Linked DNA regions of Homo sapiens. Each later gene encodes a partner of the first gene's protein in a complex. Each region holds a gene or a part of one and is shown on either strand. Other genes may lie near its edges.

Region 1 (15,841 bases):
AACAATCACATCTCTAATAACTGCTAAGTACAACTAACTTGCTTAAAATAAGTGATACATAATGTACAAGTACTTGACCAGACAGCGAAAGAAGGCAAATACAGGTTGAGAGGCCTTTATACAGAATGCTTGACACCAGACTGGGATTTTTTCAGATTTGCAGATATTTGCCTTTTTACCTACTGGTTGAGCATCCCTAATTCAAAAATCTGAAACATTCCAATGAGCATTTATTTCGAGTGTCATGTTGGCACTCAAAGTTTTAGATTTTGGAGCATTTCTGGTTTCCAGATTACAGATACTCAACCTGTATAAAATATTCATAGCCACTAGATTTCCAAATGTACGGAAATACCATAACAACCAAATCAGCAGTTAGAAGACAAAAATGAGTTCAAAATGGCATCTCAGGAATGACCTCCTTGAGAGCAGGGCATACATCACCTGTACACTAGGTACCACACCCAAGATACTTAAATGTGTACTGAATAAAAGAAAAATAAAGGTAAGGAAAAAAATAAGAATGAGACTGATAATTTCTACTTGGAATGTCATCTATTAATTCCTACTTATAAACCTTCACAACATGGACCTATTTCTCTAGGTTAAAAACAGGTTGGGCAAGGCGGCTCATGCCTGTGATCCCAGCACTTTAGGAGGCCAAGGCAGGAGAATCACTTGCGCCTTGGAGTTCGAGACCAGCCTGGCCAACATGGCGATACCCTGACTCTACTAAAAATACAAAAATTACCTAGGCATGTGGCACGCACCTGTGATTCCAGCTACTTGGAGAACCTGGGAGGATGAGGTTGCAGTAAGTGGAGATTGCACCATTGCACTCCAGCCTGGGTGACAGACACTCTGTCTCAAAACAAACAAACAAACAAACCCCAAAATCCCTAGTACACTGCTATGGTGTAGCATATGTACCAAATCTTTTTTTTTTTTTTTGAGACAGTTTTGCTATTGTTGCCTAGGCTGGAGTGCAATAGCGCGATCTCAGCTCACTGAGACCTCCACCTCCCAGGTTCAAGCAATTCTCCTGCCTCAGCCTCCCAAGTAGCTGAGATGACAGGTGTGCGCCACCATGTCCCGCTAATTTTTGTATTTTTAGTAGAGATGGGGTTTCACCATGTTGGTTAGGCTGGTCTCAAACTTCTGACCTGAAGTGATCCATCCACCTCGGGCTCCCAAAGTGCTGAGATTACAGGCATGAGCCACCGTGCCTAGCCTCAAATCTTTACTATCTATTAATACTACTATTAGTCTTATCATGATATTCAACAAGCCTAATTTAAAAATCAAAGGTTAATCTATTGACTTGTTTCCTCTTTTGATCCACTATCTAATGAATACATTCATTGCACTACACAAGCTGTTTCGTTTATGCATATGTGTGTTAACACTAACTTATTTTGATGTTGCCTTTTTCTCCTAAAGAGCAAACTAAAAGAATAAAGGGCCCTAATTCAGCATTTCTCACAAAATGCTAATTTCATACAATGTGCTACACAAAGCAAAACAAATGCTTTATGTGGGAGATTTATGGGGGAGATGGTCAAATAAGACAGAAATACTAAGTAAAAATTGTAAAAGGCTTCTGCAAGACTTCTCATCACTTTAGTAAATATTATGCCTTGTGAATTTCAAAAGGGGAGCAGGGGATGCCGGTCATTCTTCTCAACTGATGTGGTCCTCCTTAGATCTTTCCACACTAAGTTTGTGAATAGATGAGCTCATATTTAAATGAACTGCTATCTAAAGATAATGAAAATAAACGTATTTGTAGTCTCACTATTAACATTTGTCAAAAATCTAACCACATTGAGTCAAGAATTTACAGACATTAGGTCTGAGTTAAGATATTTTTTAAAAGTACTTGCTTGAGTCATCCACATGTACCCAGAAGTTACCCAGATTCAAGAATTATGAGCAGATGACCTAAAAAACAAAAATTCTATCTCTTTTTTGTCACTGGCTAATGCCCAATTCAATGGCATGGATCCTGTAGCTACTCAAAAGGAAGGGTAATTCAGAAGGAACAGCAACAAATAAATTTGTCAAATCAGTCAGGTAAGTCTAAGGTACCAATACACTAAATTTCTCTGCAAGGCCTATATCCTACTTTGTTATTTTTTCCTCTACATTACCTCTACATTACTTATAATACCTTACACAATGTAAATGCTATAAAAGTTATTATACTTTATTTTTAAAAATTTGTATTTTTTTGTTGTTGCTTTTTTAAAGACTATTTTCCATCGCAGTTGCTTGAATCTCTGGATACAGAGGGTCGACTGCAAATGGAAATATTTTAGTTTTATTCTCCAAACAAAAATTATTTATTTCATCTTATTTATCTTCCATTTTTGTCAAATGAAAAAGTAAGAGTAAAGAGGCAGACACTAAAAACAAGAATAAGTAGTAACAACGTAAAGTCACAAGTAACCACTGGAAACAGTCACATTTAACACTGACTGACTTATGGGCTTATACTGCAGGAAAGAATACCTGTGTATTTGTTTCATTCATTCAACAAGTATTTTACTGAGCACCCATGATGTGCCAAGAACTGTGCTCAGCACCTATAGGCTTCTTAAAAAGTACAGAACATAGCCCCTGCCCTCTAAGAGCTTACAATCTATTACTTGTTGGAAAATTAAAGCAAATTAAGAAACCATAAAACAAGTCAATAACTAGGTGCCAAAATAAGTGAAACGGTAAGAGTTATGGGTAGATTACAAATATTTTCTTTAATAATCTGAAGGGGAGGTATATGTTGGCAAAAGTCATTTTTGAGAAACTTTTGGAGAAGGCAGGACTTGAAATAGTACAACATAGGTAAGCAAAGCAAACTTCATGGTGATACTGAGCTGGGGGCAGGAGGGTAAGAAGAACAGCCTAAGTTTGAAGTTGTGAACTAATATAATCACTCAAGACACCGTGAAAAGACCAGCCTAAGTTCAAATTAGGGAGTGTAAAGACATGCAGCCTTGAATCCTGCTTTGACATGTACTATGGGGAGGTTCTTTAAAGTTAAGCTGTGGAATTTAGATACTATGTTATAGGCACTGAAAGTACTGGAGATTCTTGGGCAAGGAGATAACACATTGAAATCTAAAATTTGTGGGGGCAGGGGGGCATCCTTGAAGCAAGAAAACCAACTCAACTCAAAAACTGTTGAATAACCTAGGCATGGGAGAGTGACGACTTGGGCTCATGTGGTAGCAGGAACTGAAATAAAATAAGATCTATTAGAGCCAGCCTTACTCAATATAGGAGCAAGAAAATCAAACTCATTTGTAAAAAGCAATTATTCATTTATCAGTTTACTGACCAAAGACCAAAAAAAAAAAGCACTGAATAAATAGAATTAGGGAGGCATTACTAAAGGAATTTTCTGTTCTTTCCATATCATCCCATAAAATCTGATATCTACTCTTATCAAATGATCTGAACTGAATCATAGGATGTTAGAGCTGAAAGGGACCTTAACTCAATTACTCTACTCTTCTCACTGATAGAGGAAAATAAAGACTCAAATAGGGAGGAAAAAAAAAGAGCCAGCTAGCATGACTCTGGGGCAAAGGCATAATCATCTGTGATAAAGATGGCAGGACCTGCATGTCCTTTGTGTAGAAAACACAAAAGACATGAAAACAGTATTTACTATGGACACTGAGGAAGAAGACAGCCTCACACATAATTTTATTGATAGAAATCTCTACAGAAAATCTTTATTTTTTTGAGATAGGGTCTCACTTTGTCACCCAGGATGGAGTGCAAGGCGTGATCTTGACTCACTGCAGCCTCGACCTCCCAGGTTCAAGCAATCCTTCTGCCTCAGCCCCCTAAGTAGCTGGGACGACAGACGCACACCACCACACCCAGCTTATTTTTAAATAGTTTTTGTAGAGATGGGGTTTCACCATGTTGCCCAGGCTGGTCTCCAACTCCTGAGCTCAAGCGATGCACCCGCCTCAGCCTCCCAATGGGAAATTTTTGAGTACTGCCATCCAGCAGGGAAAATTCTTTATCTTTCTTTACTAACATTTAACCAGTGATCCTCAAAGCATCTTAAATCACATATTATTTAAAGCTTAAACAACCTGTAAGGTCCCTTTCAGCTATAAGATCCTATAACTCTAAAAGTATGACTTTCCTATAAAGTTATATAGAATAAGAGGCAAATTTAATCTACAAGATAGAAAACTGAAATAAACCTGAAAGAATATTAAGCTCAATTTGATAATCATCAAATATTTATTACTACTAAGAGTCAGCCTAAATGCATGAGATGGCACTCTAGGTCATCTCATGAATTAAGAAAAAAAAAATTTGAACACACCACTTCTTTAAGCTAAATAGCTTGATGCATTTGAGAAATTATGAACCCTGGCTTCCGTACATCATTATGCTACCCAGTCTGCATATTATTTTACAAACAAGTTTTACAGTTTCATGTCATATTGGTAACATTCCAAAGACCACAATTATTTGGCAAGTAAGACTGCCACCAATTTTAGTCTTTAGCTAGTCCCAGCATGAGATGTTCATGCAAACCAGTCAACACATGAAGGTTTTTATAACCTTCAGTCCCAAAGTCTAAAGAATTTGTGAACTGACTTTTTTAAATTGCATGGCAGAACCCTCCCAACTGTCACTACTGTGAATGATACAGACAGACATCCTGCTTCTTCTCAATTATCTTCTGACCACTTATTCCTCCTGAGTACTTCCAAGAGTGGCAGAAGAAATAATGCAGGAAAAAGGATCAATTGTCCTATTTATTATCACCTTTAATTTTTAAAGCAATGTTTACAGAGTTTCAAATATGATTTCTGATTTGAGAATTCAAATTATCCATGCTCTCCCAGTCTGTTATAAAGCTAAAACAAGAATTTGTTTTACCAAGATTTGGGACCCATATTTGTTAGTGAAATATTAAGGGGATAAAAGGGAATTATATAATTCTGACAAAAACAGCGGAGATTCTTTTGGGACTTTCAGGGCATAACTCCTACTAAAACATTTATTTATTATACTAACAGGAGCCTTCAGAGGGAGAAGAATTCTAAACATCTAAATAATTAGGTCTACTTAAAGGCACGTGGCATATATTAGCCTAGGAAAAAGTAGAAGAAAACCACACCAAAAAAATCAGTTATTTGAATGGATGTGTACCGAGTAGCAAGTAAACTTACTAGAAAGATGGTCACTGATACAGCTAAAGAGAAAGGGCCATAAAGCAAACTGTGACCAGCTTATGTCAATGAGATACATGAAAGTACTTTTAAAAAATAAAATCTGCATTTTTTTTTTTAACTAGAACTATGACTAGCTGGTATCTTGGTTTTGGTAGTGCAATAGCACCATTACAGCAAGGGTAAGCAGGTCAATCCCTTGCAAAACTTACCTTGATTGGCCCAATGGAAACAGAAGGCCCCAGAAAAGAGAGAAGCATCTGGCAGTAGCAAATTGTTTTATTTTATCTTTCTGTGGAAAGAAACTAATTTTAAATAAGAACCAGAGCATTTAAAGAATAAATATTTTTAAAGCTCATTATCTAGTTAGAGCAGCTCTACCAAGAAAACAAGAAGAGCTCCTTGCTCCTTAGAGATGGAAAGAAACAGAAGAGGAATCAAAGTTGTTTCTCCATCACCTAGAGAGTTTTAAAATTTGTGTTATTCTAGAGTAACAGAATAAAAGGCTCTTTTATTTAAAGAACTCCTGCAAGCAGAATCTTTTGGGGCTGGTGCCTTTGAATAAAGGTTTTGTTTTGTTTTTTAACAAAATTAAGGGCAATATTCCAAATTAAAAAAAAAAAGAGGAAAATCACTGGACATTAAGCCCTTCTACTCTTAAGGTTAAGTAAAAAGAGACAGACACATAGCAAGCTCCTTTTCCCACTGCAATTTCACCAATAACTTTAACCATGAAAGCTTAAACAATTATCAAACAGTACTAATTAGCAAAAGATCACATGAAATTGGCTTCCAAAATATTTTGTTAGCCTAAATTTTTGATGATTTATGGAAATACTCAAATGGAAATAACCCAGCCACCTAAAGATCTATTATAGAACTTAACATGAAGCACAAAATTACTCATGGTAACTGAACCTGTTACCTTTCTTGGATGCTTCTCTAGAAACTCAGTTCTACCGAAATCACTGAATCAGCATTAAAACCTTTTGATCCAAATCACTCCTACAAAATGTCCATTTACAATTTATGCTAGAGATGGAAGGGACAGCTCATAAGCAGGAGTGTAGAAGCAACAAGCATTAAAAAAAAATAGTATAAGTGGAAAATGAACTACCTATTGGCACTGTCCTATGAAGAATCAGAATTATAGAGCACAAACTCCCCACCCTCCCTCACCCTCCTCCAACACACAAAGAGGAAGATATTTCAGGAATAAAATTCGCTCTAAACCAAAACAATAGCTATTTTCAGATTCTATTTATTTACATGGTCTACCAAAATCAGTTATGTTGCTGTATCAGATAATATTTACTTAGACCATCAACTTCAATTGGCATTCTTGAAAAAATAATCATTAAAAATAAAAGCCTGGATCCACACTTTACTTTTAAATAATAAAGAAAAAAATTCTTAGTTTTGAGGTCATCAGTAAATTTCTCAGAAGACTTTTTCATTATTTAAATTTCTCAGAAGACTTTTCCATTATTCAAATTTCCGTTACAGTCATGATTTAACATTTGGCTTATTTGAAATTATTCGGGCATAAACTAATCATTAAACAGCTATAACTACTGACCTAGATTCTGAAATCTTGATAGAATACCTGAGGCAAAAACAAATAAATAAATGCAAAATAAAACAAAAACAGTCTTACTTGTCCCATTGGTGGCCCTCCCATAGGGGGCATCATCTGCGGCATCATTCCATGAGGTACAGGAGGCATATTCGCTCTCTGACCCATAGGGTGCATTCCCATTGGGGCATAATGCATGCCAGGGTGCCCCATCTGAAAAACAGTGAACATTTTTAAATGAGCAAATAATACTAAATGCTTCTCAAAAATCTCATTTCAACAGATCAGTTATCTGAAGCGACATAATATTAAGCTTATGTGTAATAACATCATTGGATTAGTCTATACCTTGTTTCAAACAAAACGCATTCTGCTAGTATTTAAAACGAGCTTGCAAATTCCGTAAAAAAATGGGAAAAGTTAAGATGAATCCTGGACCGCTGGATCATAGGTTTTCTCTCTCTTTTTTTTAAGCACTGACTTAACCAGCTACTAATTGGCTTGCTAAGCTTGGAGGATACACATTGAATACTAATTTTAAAACTGTTATGGTGAAAACAACAACTCTCCTATTTCATGCAGATATAAAAGATAGCCAGCTATTGTTATTTTATAACACTACTGATTTTAAACTTTAAAATGCTCTATCCAATTAACTCAGGTGAGAGTCGGTCTTACAAAACACAAACAGTATGGCTACCCAGGCACAATTCACTCCTAACAAACTTATTTCCTAACATAACCTTTAAGACAGGTAAAATTCCTTCTGCCAAAAATACATTTTCAAAGACTGAGGTTCTGTCACTCACGGACACTAAATGCAAACAACTAATTCATCCTTTTTAACGCAGTTTAAAAAGACAACTACTTTCTTTACCGATGAGTCCATTGTTCTATGTTTTAAATTAAAACCACCTAATTATCTCCTGCCAATTGTCCCAACAGTTCCCCCTGCAGACCACCCCGACGACTAATGAAAACAAATTTTGGCAGCCGCTGTTAAAGTCTTACAGTATCAAGCCCCTGCCTCCCCCTCCCAGCTAAAATCGGGCCTAAAGCTCCAAGACGCTCACCCCGCCCAAGAGCCAGCACCTTCACCACGCATCTGTCTAGGCCAAGCCCACGGGGAACTTCCAGGGTCTCACATCCTTCTCTTTGTGCATTTCCACCCTCCACTTCTCTCCCTCAGAACATATCCCACCATCTCGAGTTCTTCCTTCGTCCACTCTTATCTTCTTCTCCTTTCGGAGAAAGCTTCCTGTTTCTCACTCCGTTTTTCATTGTGCCGCCTTCCCCCTGCCCCACTGATCCCTTACCGAGGGCCGTCTCCTCAGGAAGCCGTCAGCAGAGACCCAAGAGCCGGAGCAGAGGCTTGAGCCGGACAATCTCCGCTCCCCGTCCCCAGGACCCTGCGAGGGAGGATGGCTCTCCATTTCACTCACCATGAGGCCTCCACGCTCAGCTCCCGTCCCCGGCCTCATCGTCGGGCTCAGACTGCTCCGCCGGCGGCCACTGCCGCTACACATACCAACAAGAAGCGATCTGAGTGGCTGGCGCCCACTGGGGCTAAAGGTTAAAGGCTGCCCTGCGCTACGGGGCGGGATCAGCGGGGCCAACAGGCTGACGGGCTTCCCCGCTGTCCAATCAGAATGCGCCGCCGACACGCAGCTCTGCGGCGATTCGCCCCCAGCCTCAGCCTCACTCGGCGTCGCCTGCATGGGGGGGGGGGAGGAGGAGGACGGAGGAAGTTTCTGCGCCGAGTCCTCCGTCGGGAAAACTCTACCAACTTCCCCAGGGGAAGGGAAGACAACAGTGTCCCAGCTTCCCGAGCTTAGACCGCCTCACCCCGTAGGGGGTGGGGCAGTGGGGGTCTGCCACCTTCACCCTCCCCGCCCGAGTTACGTACGCCCCACAAACCTGAGGCCGCCAGGGGTAGGGTGGAGGGGGCGGGGGTAAGCAGCCTGTAGTGTTAGCGGTGGCTGGGACCGAATGCGCGCGCGCGGTGCTCGAGGCGGAGGGGAGGAGGCGGGGAAGGCGAAAGGAGGGGTTCGGAGGAGAGGGTTCGATCTCCGTACGCACCAGGTGGAGAGCGCGCGCCTGGGGAAGGAGGCGTGTCGAGTAGCGGGAGGGAAGTTGTAGTACGGGTGGGGAGAACCACACTAAAGGGAGATGGGGGTGAGCAGTTAAGGAACCGCGAGAGCGCCAGGTAGAGAGGTGCCCTTAATGGGGGAACCTGGAGAAGAGTGTGAGCGTAGTGGGGAAGAAGGGAGAAGACAAATAGGTTCGGGAATGTGTCTCCGAGGGCGCGAGCGGGCGCTAGGACCCGGCGTCGAAAAGATGAGGCTTTGGGGCTGTCGGGGCGCGCGCTCCCGTTGGTGACGCGGGGGTGGCGGAGGTCTCCGGCCGGGACGAAGCCCCGCAGGGAGTGGATACTCGACAGCCTTCGGCCTCCGCTCGCTTCTCCCTGCGCGCTTTCCTGCTCCCCTTTCCGGCTACAGCCCTGGGGTCGAGCTCTGGTCGAAGCGCATTCCGCCTCTCCTTTGGCCCTGCGGCTTCCTTTGCAACCCGCCGCCCACCCTTGCTCTCCGTGGTTTACCCCTGGGCTCTGAGGCCTGGTGGTAGCGGCCACTGCCGCGGATTGGCTGTTGCGGACCCGGGGCGGGGCAGGTGGGAGAGGCTCGTTCTCCGCGGGTTTCGTTGTGTTTCGCGCCATGTCGTTTGCTGAGAGCGGGTGGCGGTCGGCTCTGCGGCGCCGCGGTCCCGGCACCCCGGGCCCTGTGGCTCGGCCATCGTATTCCTCCTTTACTCAGGGGGACAGCTGGGGTGAAGGCGAAGTCGACGAGGAGGAGGGATGCGACCAAGTGGCCCGCGACCTGCGGGCGGAGTTCTCGGCTGGGGCGTGGTCAGAGCCCAGAAAGCGCTCGGTGCTCCCGCCGGACGGGAACGGGTCGCCCGTTCTGCCCGATAAGCGCAATGGTATCTTTCCCGCGGCCGCGGGCAGCAGAGCCCAGCCTCGGCGGTGGCCGGTCCAGGTCCTCTCTATTCTCTGCTCGCTGCTCTTCGCCATTCTTCTCGCCTTCCTCCTCGCCATCGCCTACTTGATCGTTAAAGGTATTGAAGCCGACGCCTTGAAAGTCTGTCCAGAGTAAAGTTGAGCCAGGGTGTGGCTCTCGTCTCCACCCATCTCCCTTTCCCTCGCGCTAAGCCCTCAGGCTGGCAGCTGCTTTCACCCAGAGTCCTCATTTGCATCTTACTTTGCTCTCCCGCCCTTTGCCTTTTCTAAGTGGAGCGTCCTGATCCATGATCAGGAGACGTATTTTTAAAAAGGATCGTTTGATTAAATGGGTACTCTTGAAGAAATATCTTCAAGTCCTTGAACACTGGGGATGAAATATTGTGAAGATTAAACAAAATGCGAAACACCCACCATTAAAAGGAGACAGTGAAAAGTGCATATAATTAAAATAGGCCATGTTCAATGGCCTTCATCCACAAATAAAGATGTGCTGTCCACCAATTCCTCTACACAGAATCTTGAGGGACAAAGATTTTCATCGCATAGTCCAAATTTCTTCTTTTATAGGTAAAATAATTAGCCTCTCAGTTTTTAAGTTTGTATCCAGGTGTAGTGCACGGAGTTCTGTTGCAGAAAGTATAGTCCACTCGTCCTCTAATAATTTTGTTTTTCTGTCTGAAGTTGAAATATTGGCCGGTTGAAGTTTATTGCAAGGCATACGGTTGTATAATTTAGTTGGCTAGTGTATATTATAGTGGAAAGAAGCAGAGTTAAGTTTAAATTTCCATTCTCACTAGTTTGTGACCTTTGCCAAGTTACTGAAAAAAAAAAAAAAAAAAAAAAAACAAAAGAACTTTGTTGTATGAAAAGCACCCAAAACATTGTCACTGAAGTGTTATTTTTGTACTTCATTAAATATAATTAAATCTATTTAACTCCAGTTTTTATTTGTCCTCATTGCTTCCCAGCGTTTAGTGGGCTACAGATGGCATGGCATCTAAAACCTTACAATGCTTGATTTTCATACAGAAGACACTTTGGCCAGTTGATGTGGGTTTTACCTCTTCATAAAATGGTAAACTGAATGTGCATAAAATGCAAGCTGTCAGTCTTAAATGATTGGCTGCCAATGTTTCATTTATCATTCCCCTCCCCACTTTTTTGCCCTTTTTTGCAATTCTGATAGTTTTGTCTCCTAGGTGGTTTATTTCTGTTTTGCTCGGAGACATTGCCTTTGTATCATAAAGTCACAAAACCATGATAAGTGGAATTCCATTGCAGAAGACATTGAACTGTGCTTATTTGGAAGAATAGAGAAAGGAACTGAACTCCACCTAGTATGCCCTTTAGTGTTTACCACTACCTTAGGGAATAAACAGTACTCTCATCCTATGTACGGTATATAGCTGTTGGCTCCCTTAGTGGTCAACACATTAATTTGCTTGCTGAAGGTCACATAGCTGGTAAATTGAATCAGAATTTGAACCCAGTTCTTTGTGACTCCAGAGCACTTTCCACAGCTCCACAATGCCTTCACAGCCCTTGAGTTACTTTTCAAATTATAGTATTGCTTTCCTACCTAAGTCCCTCTTTGTATTTGCAGAGTTGCATGCTGAGAATTTGAAAAATGAAGATGATGTAGACACTGGACTATTAGGTATGGACTTAATTGCCGCTTGCTTTGGTTTTGAGCTCACGTTTGTGTTTCTAGATCATGTTTGAACTAACTCTGGGATAAAATACTTAATGTATTTCTATGTGCAGTCATTCAGTCTTGTTTTTAATTTGCATATGTTGGTGATAAATGTTATTAGATTTCCTTTATATGTGTGGAGTATGTGTATGCATATATGGTATGTTTGCTATAATTTTTTAATGGGGCCAGGTGCAGTGGCTCACATCTGTAATCCCAACACTTTGGGAAGCTGAGGCAGTAGAATCACTTGAGCCCAGGAGTTCCAGACCAGTCTGGGCAACATAGTGAGACCCTGTCTCTACAAAAAATAAACAGAATTAGCCAGGCATGGTTTCACTCATGTTTGTAGTCCCAGCTACTTGGGAGGCTGATGTGGGAGGATCACTTAAGCTGGGAAGTTCAAGGCTGCAGTGAACCGTGATAGTTACACTGCACTCCAGCCTGGGCGACAGAGTGAGACCCTGTCTGAAACAATAATAATTTTTTTAATGGGTACTGGTATGTGTATGTACCACACACACTAGTAATACATTTTAAACACAACTGCATGTGACTCAGGTCCAGAGAAATATTTAACATTTTCTAATTACCTTCTGGAAGAGGCTTCCCACAGCTCTTCTCAGGAATTTAAAAACAAAAGAACTTCCTCACTATCCTAGCAAAGGTAAATAATGTCTTATGTAGGCTTCAGGAGGAATTTAAGTTCAAATATCTTTATGTGCAGCTTTTTTTTTTTTTAAAGCATTGACCATCCTTGCACAGGTAAATGACTAGGAGAGTCAGACCTCAGTTTCTGCAGTGTCTGTAGAATGCTGTAGTTCACAGGTTTCCAGTGAAAAAGGTTATTCTATATTTCTCTCCACCAAAATGATTCTGAAGAGTTGAAAACTTTACCTGTCCAGCATATTTTACTCCTATTTGCTTTGATCACTCTAAATTGGGGAGGGGAGATCAAACTTAATCACTCTACATTCGATCACATGAATCAAGTCATTTGATGTGATCACTTTAAATTAAATCATTTGATTTGATCACTGTAGATAGGTGGTTGAGACACTATGACACATGTCCTCCCCTCTCCCATTCTTTCCTAAACTCTCTAATCTACCACTTTATGGCTAATCACCCTTATGGTGACACTAAGTATAGTGTACCTTATTTCAGCAGAAGGGGAAACATGAACCCTTTATCTTCAAATTGCAAAGAAGTTGGTTTCTTAGATATTGCATGGAAACTTTTGTCTGTTCTTGTCAACATCTTGCATGAGAAAACATACTTTTTAGTTACTCATTTTATCAGTGTATGTTTTTACATTGTTTTATCTCTAGAAATAAGCCAAGATTATTAGGCTTCTCAGAGCTTTTATTGATCTGTCACCTCTTGATGCAGTGGAAACAGAATCTTATGAATTAGGCATGAATTCTAAACCTTTTGCTGTTTAAAAGTTGTCCTGATTTCTCATTTAGGAGTAGAATGACGGGCAGTTGTTATCTGAAGGAATGGCTTGCTCAATATCAAAAGGAATGTGATAGGTCTTTTGACATGGTCCTGCTTCCTTTTCCACTTAGGGTTAAATAATCCCATGTTGCTTTTAGGTATGCATGATAGATACTTAATATTTTTACAGCAAATAGGAAAATCATTAAGATTTTGCTAATGGCATGAATTTATTGTCAAGAGTCAGGAATGAGCAGAAAGTGTTGTATCTTTATGGTGAAAAAAACCCAACAGCTATGCCAAAACAAAGCTCATTATTTTGAACCAATGGTCAGATGAGCTCCAGTGGTCAGATGGAGAATAAAAATAGTTAATATCATTTAATGGGCTAATTCAATCAGTTTCCTGGGGGTTAATTTTAAAGAATAGTTATAGCAGATGTATGTATTATAACATATGGATAGAGAATAGTTGTCTCTACCAGAAGAGGATTCTTAAAAATCTGTTTCAGTGAAACAGGGCCAAGATGATTAAGCTCTTAATAAGATTGAGGTGATCGGCCACGCGCGGTGGCTCACACGTATAATCCCAACACTTTGGGAGGCCGAGGCGGGTGGATCACTTGAGGTCAGGAGTTCGAGACCAGCCTGAACAACATGGTGAAACCCCGCCTTTACTAAAAATACAAAAACAAAATTAGCTGGGCATGGTGGCACAGGCCTGTAATCCCACCTACTCGGGAGGCTGAGGCAGGAGAATCACTTGAACCGGGGAGGTGGAGGTTGCAGTGAGCCAAGATTGCGCCACTGCATTCCATCCTCAGCAACAGAGCAAGACTCCAACTCAAAACAAAACAAAAGATTGAGGTAATTGTGGCAACACCTGCCTTTTTTTCTAAGCTGCAATTCTCTACTGTTTTCAAGAAAAATACAAGTTAGCCTATTTACAGAATGTTTTGAATTGACTCCTGTCCTCTGGTTAAAACTCCTCTTGAGATAATTGATAGCTGAAAAGGTAGGATGGTTCTCTCAAACTTGACTTCCATCTAAATCAACGCTGAGTTGATTAACTTAGATATCAAGAAAAATTGCCTCATTAGTTTACCCCTGAGGAGATGCCTATGAAGTTACATCCTTTTTACAATTAATAAGACAGTTTTCACATGAAGAAACAATTTGAAATATTTAATAAGAAAATGTGTTGAAGTCATCCATTACGTTTGGGAAAAGTACCATGCAGCCTTTTATCAGATGATAACGATTTTATTATATTTCACTATTTATTTTGCCCTGTTTATTAGGAACCTCGTAGCCAAATGTAATAATGTTTGATTGTTTTGTATATTACTCTTTATTTCTTGGCATACTTATTATTGCCCACACATGCTATTATCTTAATATTTCCGTGACTCATATTTAAAATTTACTGCAAATTTCCTCATTCTTTGTTTGAAAGTAGGTTGGTTTTTAGAAAAAGCAACGTGAGCACAGTAACTGCTCTACCATGAAAGAGTTCTCTTTCTTTTTCTAGACAGACTGACAAAAATTTTGTACACTGCAGAATTTAATTGCAATTTAATCCTAGTCCAAGATTGGCATGGCAGTCAGTAAGAACAGATTATAGCAGCAATTCTCATTTTGGTATGGGTAACAATCACTTGGGGACTTGCTTTTTTAAAAGCACCTGTAGATTTTGTTTTGGCCATCATGATTTCGTGATACAGAACATTAGAAGTGTTAAAAAAAGTCCAAGAGAAAGGATGTGTGGGAGGTGGCCCATTCTCTTAAAAAGACACAAGTTGAGTAAAACTCAGTTTCATCCTTACAATGAAAATTGATTGAAACTCTGAACTTGAACTTTTTAGCCAGTGTGTGGACTTTATAATTTGAACCTATACTCTATTAAGAAAGTGTTACAGTGCTATCTGTGGCTGGGTGGGGTAGCTCTAATATTTCATCTAAAAAGTCACAAATATCCTATTCTATAGCACAATTTTTGTAAAATTGTCTTACCTATTTGTATTATTCAAGAAATGATGACTAAGGCCAAAAAAAAAAAAAAAAAAGAGAGAAAGCCAAAAAGGACTGGAAGGATATAATCAAAATGTTAGTTTATCTGGGTTTCCGAATTGATTGGTTGTATTTATTATTTTTATTTTCTACAATGTATAAGTGTAACTTGCAATAAGAAAAACTTTAAGGGAAAGCACAAATTTAAGTTTAGAGAATAATGTTTCAGTAATTAACAATAACACCATTTATTGCACTTTTACAATATGCCAAAAGCCATTAATTTGTGTGTTATTTCCTCTAGTATTCTCAACTACACTGTATCCATCAATGTTATTTTCTTCTAAACCAAAACTCAAGAAAGTATGTATTATAATTTTTATACCATAGATAGTCTAGGTAGTATAGCAAGGCAGAAAAAGAATGGGTTATCAGCAAGAATTAGCCATGTGCAGCTAAATTATTAGTCATGAAATTATTACAGGACTCTTCTTAACACATAAAAGCAGTAATAAGAACCAGACATTAGGACCCCTAAATCTCAATAAATTGAGTTGACATTGTGTGGTACTCTGTAGTCCAACTTTGGTGGTTGGGAGGGACGTTTCTTAGGCTAATGAAGTCAAAAGTTAGCTGGCATCAGAATCACCTGAAAGATAAATTTTGCTGCTCTTCACATGGTGCAGAATATCTGACTCAGTAGTGTGAGATGGAGCCCAAGAATTTTCATTTTTGACAAGTTTTGAGTTGATGCTCTGCATGCTGCTAGTTAGGGGGCTATATATACTTTGAACACCACTGGCCTAGTAGTTCCCAAACCTGACATAAAAAAAAAAGCAAAAAAACGAAGACCCTGGAGATTTTCTTTTTTTGCTTTTACGGAATCTTAGACCCTATAATTAT
Region 2 (16,583 bases), on another chromosome or scaffold:
TTCCAGATTTCTCGGAGGAATGTTGGGACCAGGGTGGGGTAAGTGGGGACAGGGAGGTGAGCTCCTGCTCAGCAAAGGCCCTGACCAAAGGCGCCCTGGGGAGGACTGGCTTTCCGTTCACCAACCGGCCAGCAGCAGACAGTGCCTCCTTGTGGCGGATCTTCCCGGACCTCAGATTCAGTCTGGAAACGGGGTTTGGACTGCAGAGTGTAAACTGCCAAAGTGGGGGCCTCCCATAAAACGCTTGCTGCCAGCAAAGGCAGGCCAAGAGCAAAGAAAGGCCGAGAAACCAGGGAATATGCACTGAGAGACTAACACTTTAAATTTTATTTATGTATTTTTAAATGCGTAACCTTTGCCCATGGTACATATTTTTTTAAATACAGCAGAGATATAATGAAGTCTCCCTCTTACCCCGTCCCCAGCCACCCTGGTCTCAGTTACTTATGAACCCTTCTAGAAGTATTTTGCGTATTTAAGCAATTTGGTATATTTTATTCTTGGCGATTTTTTATATACGTATTAACATATTCCACATACTGTACTGACCTTGCCCTTTAAAAATATATCCTGGGGGGCCAGGTGTGGTGGCTCACACCTGTAATCCAAGCACTTTGGGAGGCCGAGGCGGGCGAATCACGAGGTCAGGGGTTCGAGACCAGCCTGGCCAACATGGTGAAACCCCGTCTCTACTAAAAATACAAAAAATTAGCTGGGCATGGTGGCGAGTGCCTGTAATCCCAGCTACTCGGGAGGCTGAGGCAGGAGAATCGCTTGAACCTGGGAGGCGGAGGTTGCAGTGAGCCTAGAACATGCCACTGCACTCCAGCCTGGGCGACAGTGCAAGACTCCGTCTCAAAAAAAAAAAAAAGAGAAAAAAATATATATATATCCTGGAGAATATGAATGTATTAAATTATCACATGCACCCTGAAAAGATATGTATATATCCTGGAGAGTTTTGCGTTAAAGATCTCCCTTTAAAAAAAAATTTTTTTTTTTTTACAGCTAGTGGTATTCCATTGTGTATGTTTCCCATAACAAATGTTAATGACCTGCAGTGAGATCCCTATTGGTGGAAATTTGAGTTGTTTTTACTACTTTTATATTACAAACAATGCTGCAATAAATATTATTAGGCTAGTGCCCCTCTGTACATATTCAAGCACTTCTAGAAGATAAGTTCCTGGAAGCAGCATTAATGAGTTAGCGGTGGCTACATATGCCGTGGTGATAGCTGCTGTCCAGTTGCCCCTCCATGGGCAGAAACCTGTGGGAGGGTCAGACCAGACTCTTTAAGTCATTCTTGAGGACAAGTAGAAGGGACGTGGGCCCCCCCAGGATGTTCAGGTAACTGGCCCATACCCGGAGTCATCCTGGTGAAAGTCAAGGGGAGCACCATGATGTGTGCTTCGGGACGGCGGAGGATCTGCCGTGTTCCCTGTGGCATGTCCAGCACCTGCTCACTACCAGTGCTCAGGAGACCCTCACGAGTAAGGGAATGGACAAGATGTGGTGAAGAGGAGTCCCTGCAATCTGCCCTTGGACTGGGTGAGCCACCCCAGCTCGCTGAGCTTTACTTTCCTTAGGTTTACCATATCCAAAGCCAACTGCAGGGCTGTCAGGAGGATCAGAAATACTGTAACAGACATAATGCAATAACATAGATGACTCTTAGAGGTAAATTAAAACAGCACTTTATGCACAGTACGATAGCATATTATAAAGCTCAAAAACAAAATGAAACCATCTATTGTTTAGCAATACATGCCCAAGATACAACCCTATTAAAAAATCATGGGAAGGAAAAGCACAAAATCTGAGATGGTCGTCCCTGAGAGGAGTGTGGGATGGGATAAGGAAGGAGCCCAGGAATTTTTAAAGGTATTGGTAATATCTTAGCTCTCAGGTTTGGTGGTAGGTTCATGGGTATTTAAGTTATAACTCAGTTCCTAACTCACATAAGGTGCCACACATCCTTTTGTATGTATCAAATATTATGTCATAAAATTTTAGTTTGGGCATGGTGGTTCATGTCTGTAATCCCAGCACTTTGGGAAACTGAGGCAGGCAGATCACTTGAACCCAGGAGTTCTAGACCAGCCTGGGCAACATGACAAAACCCTGTCTCTACAAAAGATACACAAATTAGCTGGACATGGTGGCACTCGCCTGCAGTCCCAGCTACTCTGGAGGCTAAGGTGGGAGGATTGCTTGAGCCTAGGAGTTCAAGGCTGCAGTGAGCTATGAACTTGCCACTGCACTCCAGCCTGGGTGACAGAGTGAGAACCTGTCTCAAAAAGAAAAAAAAAAAAAGGAAAAAAATTTTTAAAAAATATTTAAAAGTAATCACCGAAAAAATAGAACTCGCTTGAAAGACAAGACCAAAAACGAAGAGGACGTTTCCCTAGATGGTGAAAACAAGTGGGGCGGAATCACTGCAGCGTCCTGCACAGAACTCTGGAATTGCCACTTTGCAGTTGCTGCCTTCTAGTGTGTATTGTTGAAAGACAGTTTTATTGAGGCATAATTGGCATACAATAAGCTGCATATAAAAATGTGTACGTGATGACTTTTGACATACGTGTACACCCGTGAAGCTATTTCCACAATCAAGATAATCACCATCCCCTTCACTCTGGAAAGTTTCCCATGCCCTTGGTAAGCCCACCCTCCTGCTTCTTGCCTCCCATCCCCAAGTAACAACTGTGCTGCTTTCTGTCACTACAGGTTAATCTGCACTTTCTAGAATGTATGTAAATAGAATCACACAGTATGTACTTGTGTTTTGTCTGGCTTCTTGCTTAGCTGAGCATAAGGATTTGCGAGTCATCCCTGTTGCATGCATTAATATTTTATTCCTTTTTATTGCCAAGTAGTATTCCATTGTTTGGATGCACCAGTTTGGTTAGCTGTTCACCTGTTGATGGACATTTGGACCATGTTCCGTTGTGAACTATTACAAATAAAGCTGCTATAAACATTCATGTACCTGTCTTTGTTGGATATATTCTATCATTTCTTGTGGGTAAATAGTTTGGAGTGGAAGGGCTGACTCACAGTTAAGTGTCGTTTAATTTTTTTTTTTTTTTTTGAGACGGAGTCTCACTCTGTCACCTAGGCTGGAGTGCAGTGGCCTGATCTTGGCTCACTACAACCTCCGCCTTCCTGGGTTCAAGTGATTTTCCTGCCTCAGCCGCCTGAGTAGCTGGGATTACAGGCATGCCTGGCTAATTTTTGTATTTTGAGTAGAGATGGGGTTTTGCCATGTTGGGCAGACTGGTCTTGAACTCCTGACCTCAGGTGATCTGCCTGCCTCGGCCTCCCAAAGTGCTGGGATTACAGGTGTGAGCCACTGCGCCCGGCCGCATCTTTTTCTGTTTTTCTTTTTCTTTTGAGATTGGAGTCTTGCTCTGTTGCCCTGACTGGAGTGCAGTGATGCGATCTCGGCTCACTGCAACCTCTGCCTCACGGGTTCAGGTGATTCTCCTGCCTCAGCCTCCTGAGTAGCTAGGACTTCAGGTGTGCACCAGTACACCCGGCTAATTTTTGTCTTTTTAGTAGAGATGGGGTTTCTCCATGTTGGACAGGCTGGTTTTGAACTCCTGGTCTCAAGTGATCTGCCTGCCTTGGCCTCCAAAAGTGTTGCGATTACAGGTGTGAAATACTGTGCCCAGCCTTTTTTTGTTTTTTGAGATGGGTTCTCATTCTGTCACCCAGGCTGGAGTGCAGTGGTGTCACCTCCACTCACTGCCACCCCTGCCTCTGGGGCTCAAGCCATCCTCCCACCTCAGTCCTCATGAGTAGCTGAGACTACAGGCTCACACTACCATACCCAACTAATTTTTTATTTTTTGTAGAGACAGAGGTCTACCCATGTTGCCCAGGCTGGTCTTGAATTCCTGGCCTTGAGTGATCCCACTTCAGCCTTCTGAGTAGTTGGGATTATAGATGTGAGCCACCTCAATGTATTTTTTATTTTTTATTTTTTGAGACGGAGTCTCGCTCTGTTGCCCAGGCTGGAGTACAGTGGCGTGATCTCAGCTCACTGCAAGCTCTGCCTCCCGGGTTCACGCCATTCTCCTGCCTCAGCCTCCTGAGTAGCTGGGACTACAGGCACCTGCCACCACACTCAGCTATTTTTTTTTTTGTATTTTTAGTAGAGATGGGGTTTCACCGTGTTAGCCAGGATGGTCTCAATCTCCTGACCTCATGATCTGCCTGCCTCGGCCTCCCAAAGTGCTGGGATTACAGGTGTGAGCCACCGCACCCAGCCTTTTTTTTTTTTTTTTTTTTTTTTTTTTGAGACAGGGTCTCCCTCTGTCACTCAGGCTTCAGTGCAGTGGTGTGATCACAGCTTATTGCAGCCTCAAACTCTTTGGGGTCAAACAATCCTCCTGCCTCAGCCTCCCAAGTAGCTGGAACTACAGGCACACATCACGCTCAGCTGATTATTATTATTTTTGTTTCTGTAGAGACATTCTCCCTATGTTGCCCAGGCTGGTTTCGAACTCCTGGCCTCAAGCAATCCTCCTGCCTTGCCTTCCCAAAGTGCTGAGATTACAAGTGTGAGCCACTGCACCCAGCCCTTGGTGCATTTCTCAATGCCTATAGTTATATAATGTTGCAAAAATGGAATCATGTAATACATTTGTTAAGCGTATGAAGCATTTTTTTTTTAACTTTGGATTTTTAGGCTGGGTTTGGTGGCTCACGCCTGTAATCCCAGCACTTTGGGAGGCTGAGGCGGGCGAATCACTTGAGATCAGGAGTTTGAGACCAGCCTGGCCAACATGGTGAAACCCCGTCTCTACTAAAAATACAAAAATTAGCCAAGCATGGTGGCGCATGCCTGTAATCCGAGCTACTCTGGAGGCTGAGTCACGAGAATCGCTTGAACCCAGGAGGAGGAGGTTGCAGTGAGCCAAGATCATGCCACTGCACTCTGGTCTGGGTGACAGAGCAAGACTCCATCTCATAAGAAAAAAAAAAAAAAAAGTTGGATGTTTAAGATGTGTTGGGCAACTTCCAGCCGCCCATTTCACTCTGCAATAGAGCATGTGCTGTGTATCCTTCTGTAGCCTTTGTTATGCTCAGATAATCATATGCAAACATGCACACATCTGTATGGGGTTTGTGTTACAAAAACAAAGCCATGTCATATGTATTTCTTTGTTAACACAGAACAGTAGTTACTTTAGGTTGGTTGGTATGAATTAACAGCTTTTCAAAGCTGCCTAATATTCTAGGTTATGGGTTTTCCAATTCAGTCGTTCATATATTGATGGAAATTCACTCTGTTTGCCCATTTTTACCACTACAAACAATGCTGCAGTAAATGCAGAAGACTTTGAAAACATTATATAATCACATGGCTTGTTTGGGGGCAGATTCCCAGGAGTGGGATATTGGATCGAAAGGGTTTATGTTTTCTTTCTTTTGAGACAGAGTCTCACTCTGTCGCCCAATCACAGCTCACTTCTGCCTTTACCTCCTGGGCTCAAGGGATCCTCCCACCTCAGCTTCACAAGTAGCTGTGAGTACAGGTGCATATTTTTTTATTTTTTGAAAGGGGGAACAATTTTAATAGACAACAGAATGCTTTCTAAAAGATTAACGATAGTAGGTGTTAGCACATTTATGTTCTGCTATTTTCATTTATTTTGAGATTCCTCATTATCACCTTAATTTGTATTTCCCTTATAGGCAGTGTCTAAATACTGGTAAATAAATTAGCTAGTCTCAGTCGCACAAACTCAGCACAGTCTAAGGTGGTACTGCTATAACAGAATCCCTGAGACTGGGTAATTTATTTATTTGAGACAGGGTCTTGCTCTGTTGCTCAGGCTGGATTGCAGTGGCGTGATCATAGCTCATTGCAGCCTTGATCTCCTGGGCTCAAGTAATCCTCCTGCTTCAGCCTCTTGTGTAGCTGGGACTATAGACATGGACCACCATGACCAGCATTTTTTTTTTATTTTTTATTTTTTTAGTAGATGTTGCCCAGGCTGGTCACAAACTTCTGAGCTCAAGAGATCCTCCCACCTCAGACTCTCAAAGTGCTGGGATTACAGGCATTAGCCACCACACCCAGTCTGGGTAATTTATAAAGAATAGAGATTTCTGGCTGGGCACGGTGGCTCACGCCTATAATCCCAGCAGTTTGGGAGGCCAAGGTGGGTGGATCACCTGAGGTAAGGAGTTCGAGACCAGCCTGGCCAACATGGTGAAACCCTGTCTCTATTAAAAATACAAAAAATTAGCCAGGCATAGTGGCGGCACCTGTAATCCCAACTACTTGGGAGGCTGAGGCAGGAGATTCATGTTGGCCAGGCTGGTCTCGAACTCCTGACCTCAGGTGATCCACCCACCTCGGCCTCCCAAAGTGTTGGAGCCACCGCGCCTGGATGGAGATTAAGTTTCTAACACATGAGCTTTGGGGGACACATTCAAACCTGTCCACCTAAAGTAATCAAAAGGGTCAGAATCTAATTTCAATAGTTTATTCAAGCACAAAACATGAGGGTGGACTACCTGGAAACACCGACTCCAAATGAATGGAGTCAGTGTTTCGAAGTAGAGAAGTTAAGGTTTCATTTACACACACAAAGGCAGAGGAGTTTTAGGATTACATTCTTCATATATGGTCAGTGCGTACTTACAGTAATTTGGTTATAGGCCGAGTGCAGTGGTCCACTCCTGTAATCCCAGCACTTTGGGAGGCCGAGGCGGGCAGATCACCTGAGGTCAGGAGTTCAAGACCAGCCTGGCCAACATGGTGAAATTCCATCTTTACAAAAATGTAACAATTAGCTGGGCATGATGGCAGGTGGCTGTAATCCCGGCTACTCAGGAGGCTGAGGTGGGAGAATCGCTTGAATCTGGGAGGCAGAGGGTGCAGTGAGCCGAGATTGTGCCATTGCACTCCAGCCTGGGCGACAGAGCCAGACTCTGTCTCAAATTGAAATAATAATAATAAATAATTTGGTTGTAAGCAGTGTTTCTTTTTGGGAGGCATACATTTAACATTTTTTACAGAGGGTGTAATAGTCATGGGTTTGCTGTCATCTGGTCTAAGTAAAGCAGGACAACAAAAGGGAAGTTATCTATAAGAAGGGTCATTAAGAAGGCAGCAGGTTTTTGTCCCATGTTTAATTCTCTCCAATAATTGTACAGAACAAGAAAAACAAGCAGGTCTAATTTATTATCTCAGAAAAAATTATAACCATACATGGCTGAGATCACAGTCACCTCTCTCTCCAGGTTTCAAGTGTTGTGGGGGTTCCAACATCTTTTCTATTTATTTTAAAAAACCACAGCAGAGGGGTTGTGCACCCTTTCATATTTCTTGGCTATTTGGATTTGTTCTTCTGAGACATGTCCATTCCTATTTTTTGCTCATTTTCTATTGTTTTTGCCTTTTTTCTAATTAGTTTTTAAGATGTATTTGTATATTACAGGTATTGGCTCTTTATCATGTATGGCAAATATTTTTTCCTCATCTATCATTGTCTCTTGACTTTTATCAGTGTTAATTTTCGGGGTAATCAAGTATATCTTTTTACAGTTTGAGGTTCCTGTCTTTGCAGTCTCTCAACCCCTAGAATACCCTTATAGTCTCCTAAATTATATTCTAAATGTTTTGTTGTTTAAATTTAAGATTCTACGCCATTTATCAACGAAATCATCTTTTCCTGATTGAAATAAAATACTACATTTGTGGTATTTCCGGATTCTGTTGCACTAATGTGTCTTTCCTACCAACAATATCATATTGTTTTATTATTGTGGTTTTTTGTTTTTGAGACGGAGTCTCATGCTGTTGCCCAGGCTGGAGTACAGTGGTGCGATCTCAGCTCACTACACCTCCGCCTCCTGGGTTCAAGCAATTCTCCTGCCTCAGCCTCCTGAGAAGCTGGGATTATAGGCGTCTGCCACCACGCTCGGCTAATTTTTGTACTTTTAGTAGAGACGGGGGTTTCACCGTGTTGGTCAGGTTGGTCTCGAACTCCTGACCTCAGGTGATCCCCCCGCCTTGGCCTCCCAGTGCCTTGGCACTGGCCTATTGTGTTTTATATACTATGTTTGTCATCTGGAAAGGCAAGCTCCTGCTCCGTCTTGTAAAGTTTTCCCAGTACTGTAGTAGTTATTTTTATTTTTATTTTTGACAGTCTCGCTCTGTCACCCAGGCTGAAGTGCAGTGGCCCCATCTCGGCTCACTGCAACCTCCGCCTCCCGGGTTCAAGCGATTCTCTTGCCTCATCCTCCTGGGAAGCTGGGATTGCAGGAGTGCACCACTACACCCAACTAATTTTTGTATTTTTCGTAGAGACGGGGTTTCGCCATGTTGGTCAGGCTGGTCTCGACCTTCTGACCTTGTGATTCGCCCGCCTCGGCCTGTCAAAGTGCTGGGATTACAGGCGTGAGCCACCGCGCCCGGCCGTAGTTATTGTTTTATACGATTTTAAGATCATTTAATTAAATCCTCTGAACTCCGTGGAGATTCCAATAGAAGTGTGTATTTGTAATTTTTGAACTGACAACCTTCTGTTACCTTTCATCTAATATGTTGTTGCATCAGTTCAAATACTGTTTTAAATCCTTCGATAAGTCGTCTCTATTCGTAGCTTTTTGGGTCACTTTTTTTTTTTTTTTTTTTTTCCAAAAAAACAGGAAGTCTTTTTACCTGCAGCGTCAACTGAGCCGGTTTTCCGGCGCGCGCCAGCCCCTCCCCTGCTCCCGCCCCAAGGTTCTGCGTTACCATGGGAACAAAGGTTGACGTCACTTAGGGCTTCCTTGCTGGACCCAAGGGTCGATGGTGAAGGGAGACGGGTGGAGAGGCGGTTTTGCTCCATCTACGCATGCGCACTTCCTGCTCCAGGACTCCCCCGCCGTAAATCTCGTTCCGGCTGGGCCTTTTCCGCCGCGACTCTCGCTTAATCCCGGAGAAACTGCCCCCTGGGGGAGGGGAGTAGAAAAAGGCTGGAACCAGCGACAGCCAATCCCGCGACACTACAACGCAGGCGAGATTGATTGAGTCCACCACCGCAGCCAATGAGAGAGCTCGCCGTCGCTCCGTCATAGAGTTCGCCCCACCCCATCCCCTCCTTTCTGGACTCGGAGCTCAGTTCACGCAGTAACAAATGAAGTGCGCGCTGCGACACCTCCCAGCCCACCGAACTCCGCCGCCATTTCCTCGCTTGGCCTAACGGTTCGGCCAATCCCAGCGCGCATCAAGAAGGACTGAGGCTCCGCCAATCGGAGGCCGCCGATTTCGACCCTTCGCCTCGGCCCGGCCCAATCCAGGCCCCGGCCCCGCCGCCCCCGGCCCGCCCCCGCGGTGCCCTCTCTCCTCCCTCTTTGTGCGTCTCGCGCCGCCGCCGCCCGCCGCGTGAGAGGACGGGCTCCGCGCGCTCCGGCAGCGCATTCGGGTCCCCTCCCCCCGGGAGGCTTGCGAAGGAGAAGCCGCCGCAGAGGAAAAGCAGGTGCCGGTGCCTGTCCCCGGGGGCGCCATGGCGACCGGAGCGAACGCCACGCCGTTGGGTAAGCTGGGCCCCCCCGGGCTGCCCCCGCTCCCCGGGCCCAAAGGAGGCTTCGAGCCGGGCCCTCCGCCTGCACCCGGGCCTGGGGCGGGGCTGCTGGCTCCCGGGCCGCCGCCGCCCCCGCCCGTGGGCTCGATGGGGGCCCTGACCGCGGCCTTCCCCTTCGCGGCGCTGCCTCCGCCGCCTCCGCCGCCGCCCCCTCCGCCTCCCCAGCAGCCGCCGCCGCCTCCACCGCCACCGTCCCCCGGCGCCTCGTACCCGCCGCCGCAGCCGCCCCCTCCGCCGCCGCTCTACCAGCGCGTGTCGCCGCCGCAGCCGCCGCCACCCCAGCCGCCGCGTAAGGACCAGCAGCCGGGCCCGGCCGGCGGCGGAGGAGGTGAGTCGGGCCGAGAGAGCGCGAGAGGCGTCGCGCGGACGGGCCCGGCCGCCTGAGGGGCGCGCGGCGGCGGCGACGGCGGCTGCACGCGGCAGGGGCGCGCGTGCGCGCACGGGGAGGCCCGGGCGGAGGCGCCCCTGGGCGCGCGCGGCCTGGTTCTAGGGCCTCGAGTGCGCACGCGCGCTGTGGGGGGAGGGCTGGGCGGGCGGGAGGCGCTCTGTGCGCAGACGCAGTGAGGTGGCCGGGCTGTGCGGCGCAACTGTATAGACTGGGGGCCCACTATTGCTGTCCAGTCCGCTGGTGTCGGGAACAGGGGTGGCGGGTGTTCAGCGCTGGACGGGGTGCTAGCTGTGAATGCCAGCAGGGCGTGAAAGCCTCACCTGATGACGTGCAGCGACTCCCTTCTGGTCTTGAGGAACCAGAATGGGAACCGTACCAAGGATAGCTCCTCTGCTTCTACAGCAAGGCAGGGTTTTCATCCGGGAGAGGTTGGCATGCTTCAGATGATGGTTGGGTCTGATCTTTCTTGGTCTCTTTTGGGGAGAGAATTTTAGTTTGTTTTTTTTTTTAAATCTGTTCAGTATGTTTAGATCTCAGTCTGATCGGCTGCCCTGTCGCTTTGTTTTAAAAAGCTTTTCCCTCTGATCCTGTACCCCTTGGGAAATAGAAGGACTCTTTTGTGGCAAATGTAGGGAGTTTCTGCCTATGTACGGGGAAAGGAGAACTTGGCTGCTATTGTATAGGTTGTTGAATTTTTGATAGATCCTTTTAAGAGTTCAGACCCTCAGTGTCCAACTGGCCAGGAAAACTGAATGCTGATCTTGGCTAAACTTATGAAGACAAAGGTGATCTTGTTGAAGAATTGGGCTTTTCCCACTTGGTAGGGTGTAACTAGGTTTAGTTGTGGTCCGGCCTCTCGTACAAAAGTGACTGGTGAGGGGAGTGGAGGTGGGTGGAGCCCCCAGTCCCATCAGGACTGCTTTACAAATCTATGATTCTTCAGTGTATTTTTGTCTCCCCTGGGGATTTCAGAGCACTCATGGTTGATGTAGTATCTATCTAACACTCTCTGCAGCCATATGCATTAAGATTACCACGTTTATATATCTGACAGTTTTTCTAGACAAAAGAAGGTGAAATGTTAACTTGCCTGACCAAGGACCACATACCCTTGTAGTGGCCATAAGCTTTAAATCTCTGATCTCTGAGGTTTGTTTTCTGTTTTTTTAATGTTTAAGTTTTAGGTTAAGCTCTCAGCTTCACAGTCTGCTGAGTTTCTGTGTAGTACCTTAAATACCCTTAGCTGTCTGTTGATAACTACTTGTATTTACATCGGATGGATTTTGTCTCTGCCTTTTAGACTTCCCAAGTAAGAAGCGGAAGAGGAGCCGCTGGAACCAAGACACAATGGAACAGAAGACAGTGATTCCAGGAATGCCTACAGTTATTCCCCCTGGACTTACTCGAGAACAAGAAAGAGCTTATATAGGTAAATATACGTTCTGCATCCAAATGCACTTTGAGATTGTTACGATTTATTCTGAGCAAGATCTGCATTTTTTGAAAGTTTGAGATTGTAGTTATCTTTTTTGAGATGAGATACTTTCACGACTTTGGTATCATCTGTCAGTTTTTGCCCAGTGAGTTCTGCATTTGCAGCTCCTTGTTTTGGTCTGTTCGTAACTGCAGTGTTCTCCATGAGTATCAGGAAGGTAGGGTTTCACTTAGGAGTAAGAACAGTCCCCAGTCCAGCAGCCACCCTTTTCAGCTGCTGTTCATTGCCAGTTGATGAGGTGAGTGTCATCTGCCTCTCTGGACAGGCCCCAGTGGAGAACACCGCAGGTACTGTAAACCAAGTACTTTTCACAGCGTGGCCTTTCACCATAATTTTATATTTCTCCCCCTAAAATGTGGTCTTTTACTTTTTATAGGTACTTTCTGAAAAAAAAAAAATGACAAAAAGTGGTTCTGAAAGTGTGTTTACAATTTACCCCTTTTTATTTTCTTGAATTTAAGAGTTTAACCTTCCCTTCAACATCTTTTCTGGTTTGGTCTATGGAGAGCTGTCTTAAAATGAAGGCTCTTGTATTTACTTTTAAAGAACTCTGCTGGGAAAGGGATATTGCATGGATATGGAATGAAGTGCTAGGATAAAAAGGTTTTATTTGCTGGGAGGTTTTGAGAATTAATGACTATCCACAGTGGAATTGAAATTAACCTCAAAATTGCTTTTTTGGAAAAAAAAGTTTTTAATGCAAGTTTTATCTTTATATACCTGTGCAGCTGTCTCAAAAAAGTTCACTTTATAAACATTTCCTACTAACCAAATAAACATCCCCTTTGGAGGAAATTCGGGCAAAGACCTCCTAAACCTACGAGGCTGTGGCCTTCACAACCAAAAAGCTTCAAGGCCAGCATGTTACTACTTTTGAGGGTCTTAATTTCCTGTTTTTTAGACTGCTGAGAATTTTGAGGCGTTGGAATTGTCTGTCTCCTTTCACAGTACTACTAATACTTGTTCTTTCCCCTACTGTTCCTGTCTACTCCCACCCATTCCATTGTGTCTCATATTAGACTAGTCTGGGTCTTTACATCCTTGTGAAATGCCCCTAGTGGAGTGATATCCCAAGAACACAAGCATACTTAGAAGATGGGAAGAGCACAAATTCTTTATATCTCCATTTCTGTTTTTGTGGAGGGCTAGTTAGTTCACTGGGCCCTAAGGACTATTTATAGCTATAATCAAAATAGAATCAAAGGAGAGGTGTAGTTCTCCACAGAAGAGAATGACCCTTTTTATTTAGATCAGGCCCCACATCTCCATAGTCAGCTAGGAAGACTCACCTTCTCCCCTCAGTGAAGGTGACTTTCACCTCGAGTTGTTGAGCTTAATACTCAACTGCAAAGTCAGAACTTTTTAGGCATAAAGGAGCTTGGGGAACCATGTGTCTTACTACTTTTCTGTCTCCCACGGTACATACTGCTTTGTCCAGGATGCCCTCAATATCTTTTTTTTTTTTTTTTTGAGAGACTGAGTCTTGCTGTGTCGCCAGGCTGGAGTGTAGTGGTGCGATCTCGGCTCACTGCAACCTGCGTCTCCCGGGTTCAAGTGATTCTCCCACCTCAGCCTCCCAAGTAGCTGGGACTACAGGCGCACGCCACCATGCCCAGCTAATTTTTTTTGTAGTTTTAGTAGAGACGGGGTTTCACCATGTTGGCCAGGATGGTCTCGATCTCTTGTCCTCATGATCTGCCTGCCTTGGCCTCCCAAAGTACTGGGATTACAGGTGTGAGCCACTGTGCCCGGCCAGTATTTTCTTTCGATAATAATGGGTTTTCATTTCTTCAGGGTTTTAGTGTGTGGGTGTGGTATAGCCCTGTGGATGTATTTAAAGTTAGAAGGAATCTTTGGTTAGACACGCATTAATCCTATCTTGGAGCCAGCTCAGTTTTAACCCAACCTAGTAACATTTGCCCTTATTGGAGATGCCTGCTGAAAATTCTCAGATGCTGCGAAGGTAAGGAACAGGTGGTTATTCCGCATGTTGAAGAAAGCTGCTCTGGCTCTGCAGTTCCCATTATCTTGGAAAATCAGCTGTGTAACATTTCCCTGGCGTCACTGGCAACTTTTGTGAAACCCTCATCTCTCTTTTTCATGCACAGCCTCATTGGTCAAGGCCCGAGGGCCAAGTACATTGTCCTTGAACACACATTCCATTCTTCTACACGCCTGCTCCCCATATGAACAGTGAGCCTGAAAACAAATTCTTAGCACTTTATGGTTACTGGTTTATTAAGATATGTGGTTTGTCATTTAATATTTGAATAAATATTTCATATAATTGAATAAGAGCTGCAGGTATTGGGAGACCCTTACTAGTACAGGTCTGGTTGTACAGAAAGAGTATGTACAAATTTCTATAAGGTGTTGAATTTTGTTATTAAATGTCTTATTTAAGGAATTTTAAATGTATTAATGAAAATGATCTTTGCTCAATTGGTATTTTTCCTTGTCCCATGTTAATTGGGTCTCATTTTGGGCTATGTTTAACATTTAATGAAGAAAAAACTCAATTCTTGCCCTCAAGTAATTTGATGGGAGTCGGGTATTGGTGACGTAACATGGTTTATGGTTCTGGGTACCAATGGTAAGCAAGCCTTGGTGGGGAGGAAGAGGTGAAACACCTCCTAATAATTGCTTGGATGTTAGCCTTAGTGAACAGTCTTTATTGCTAACCCCTCTTCCAACAAACTGTTTGCTTCCTTAAGTGATAACCATTTTGAAGTGAAAAAAACCTATAGATGTAAAAGGACTCCTGCCGATAGGTGGTTGGGGGTTTTTGCTTCAATGTGTTCACTGATCAGTCGTCCCTTTCAAAGTCTCCGAGTTCTTCATGCTTGTTGTTGAGATTTGAGATGTTTATTGGTAACATTGTCTTTTTTCCATCCTTTTTTTTCTTTCCTAACCTGGTTTCTTCCAGTGCAACTGCAGATAGAAGACCTGACTCGTAAACTGCGCACAGGAGACCTGGGCATCCCCCCTAACCCTGAGGACAGGTTGGGAAACAGTTTTAACCAGCTGACAGTAACGCTTTTACCTTTTTCTCAATACGTTTTACTGGTGGCAACATATTGTGTCAGTTCAATAAAATCATAGTATGACGACTGTACCCTGACCACTTTGGGGATTAAGGTTTAATTAGAAATATGTATGGTCAGTCAACAGTTAGAAAATTGGAATAAAACTTAAAAATGTTGGGAGAATAAAAAGTTACAGGAAAATGGACAACTGGTTTCCAATTGGTAAGCATGTAGATCTTAACCTGATTTACCCACCCTTAGGGGACAGTGAGGTGGCCCGTTAACCTGCCTTTTCAGTACCTGCTTTGGCCAAAAGCCCAGGGCATAGAGTTTTTCTCACAGGTACACAGTGCAGGGACTAAAAATATTTTTGAGCATCACTGAACTTGAGCAAGCCAGGAGCTCTGGTCAGCTCATTGCTGCAGTCTTCCTGCTCATGGTTTTGAGATGGTTTCAAAATCAGATGAGATTTCTAACCAACTTCTTTCACTGCCAGTTAACTTTCAGCCTTGGCCATTGCCTTGGGGGTGTTGGGAGGGGCCAGAATATTCTCACCTATTTTGGGAAGGCATGCAACCAACCCTAAATTACTTTTTTTTTTTCCTTAAAGGGAGCGTGGGCCTCAAACAGCTGTGGTCATGTCATTTCAGTTTGCAGTTTCTCTCACCTCAGAAAAATAAATTGTGTGGGGGAGATGAACTTTTTTAAACTGGAATTTTATTAGCTGATTGAACAGCTAAAATTGGTCATTTAATTAGAAGGGCAGTAAGTCTCTCCCTCTCACTGAATTTTCTCTTAGTACATACAGAATAGTTGAAAAGACTTTGCTTTAAAAAGTAGTGTTTTTGGTTTTTGTTACCCAGTTAATAGCTTATTAAATCAGGAAGATGATGTAATGGCTTTAGAAGTCACTCACTCATGCATCTTTCTTCCGCCCTTTGCCAGGAAACATTAACTTCCTTGTTTCTCCATATTGACTCTTTAATTTGACTTACTACATTTGCTATATTTTACCTATAGATAGATTTTGGTTGTAGGGTTGTGTTGTGTTTCGTTTCTTTTTGAAGATTTTTTTTTTTTTTAAATTTACATTGTAGGTCATAGACCACAACTGTTTAGTGCCTTTTTGGCCTTTTTCCCTTTAATAATATGTCTACAGGTCACCAGTCAATTCCTCCAAAGGTTGAATTTTTAACAAACCTTCTTTGCTTCCTGGATAACTGGGATTAGAATTTAGTTGATCTAGCCGATGCCTGTTGGAGGTGAAGAAGTCGGGCCAGTCTAACCTCTAGAATACTAGCTTTTGCCTTTCACTTCTGCAATTTGGGAGGAGGTTAAACTGTTGTGAGGCCTTCACATGGCCAATTGGGTGCTGGTAAGACTTGTTTTTGTAACTAGCTAAGAATGCTTAATTCTAGACAGCTGTGGGGTGGGAATTAGAAATGTCAAGCATGTTAGAAATAAAACCAGAGCAGGGTTTTTCCTCCCTTCTATTCAGTTTTGAAAGAGGCCCTAATGCCTGATTGGTTTTGCTTTTGAGCCCAGGTTGGAGGGAAATGCATGGGTTTTCTTAATTAAGATAATTTCTTAAAAAGGTGTTATATCACTTAAGCCACTTTATTGTTATTTTGATGCTGCTTAACTTGCACAGTAAAAACATGTTTAAAACTTTTCTTGTAGACTTAAATGTATAAGATGGTAGTCTAATGAGCTGGGGTATGTTTGCTTTTGTTCACTCTTAATGGATTGTGCTAACAGTTTATACAAATGCTAGAAACGGAGGTGTCATTTAGCCGTCATTAGCCATGAACAAACCTGACCTTTTATTCCATCGTGTGTGTAACGTGGTGTGACATGGTTCCCTTTAGGCTGAAGACAGTGGGAGCAGCCGAGTTCAGTCCTTGCTCTCCAACTAGGCAAGGTTCTCTCAACTAAACCAAGGGTATAGGAGTCTTGATTACTTTCAGTATGTTTTTTTAATAACCTGATCCACATGGTCTCTTCCCTTCTTGCAGCTGCTACTAAATTTTCATTCAGAATATCAAGCTATGGTCCTTTTTGTAATCTTAACTCAAAATTCTAGG

The links.
Region 2: the proteins of PRPF40A (region 1) and SF1 are in contact, whole or in part, in an NMR structure (PDB 8PXX), measured with the Homo sapiens proteins. Residues at the interface, in NP_001352526.1 of Homo sapiens: His164, Ser166, Tyr172, Tyr174, Ser181, Thr182, Trp183, Tyr213, Tyr215, Ser222, Arg223, Trp224; in NP_004621.2 of Homo sapiens: Pro575, Pro576, Leu577, Pro578, Pro579, Gly580, Ala581, Pro582, Pro586, Pro587, Pro588, Pro589, Pro590.

What each region holds. Positions count from the first base shown.
Region 1 is NC_000002.12:152,709,134-152,724,974, forward strand, and holds the start of PRPF40A (pre-mRNA-processing factor 40 homolog A), read right to left. Parts: upstream 8,307-15,841; coding exon 8,097-8,306; intron 6,994-8,096; coding exon 6,862-6,993; intron 5,497-6,861; exon of another isoform or gene 5,465-5,496; coding exon of another isoform or gene 5,417-5,464; intron 3,235-5,416; exon of another isoform or gene 3,171-3,234; intron 1-3,170. Other genes in the region: ARL6IP6 (ADP-ribosylation factor-like protein 6-interacting protein 6), read left to right, coding at 9,492-9,891, 11,400-11,453.
Region 2 is NC_000011.10:64,771,322-64,787,904, reverse strand, and holds the start of SF1 (splicing factor 1), read left to right. Parts: upstream 1-9,362; 5' UTR 9,363-9,512; coding exon 9,513-9,543; coding exon of another isoform or gene 9,544-9,918; intron 9,919-10,143; exon of another isoform or gene 10,144-10,406; intron 10,407-11,278; coding exon 11,279-11,407; intron 11,408-14,399; coding exon 14,400-14,475; intron 14,476-16,583. UniProt on the Homo sapiens protein: Necessary for the ATP-dependent first step of spliceosome assembly. Binds to the intron branch point sequence (BPS) 5'-UACUAAC-3' of the pre-mRNA. May act as transcription repressor.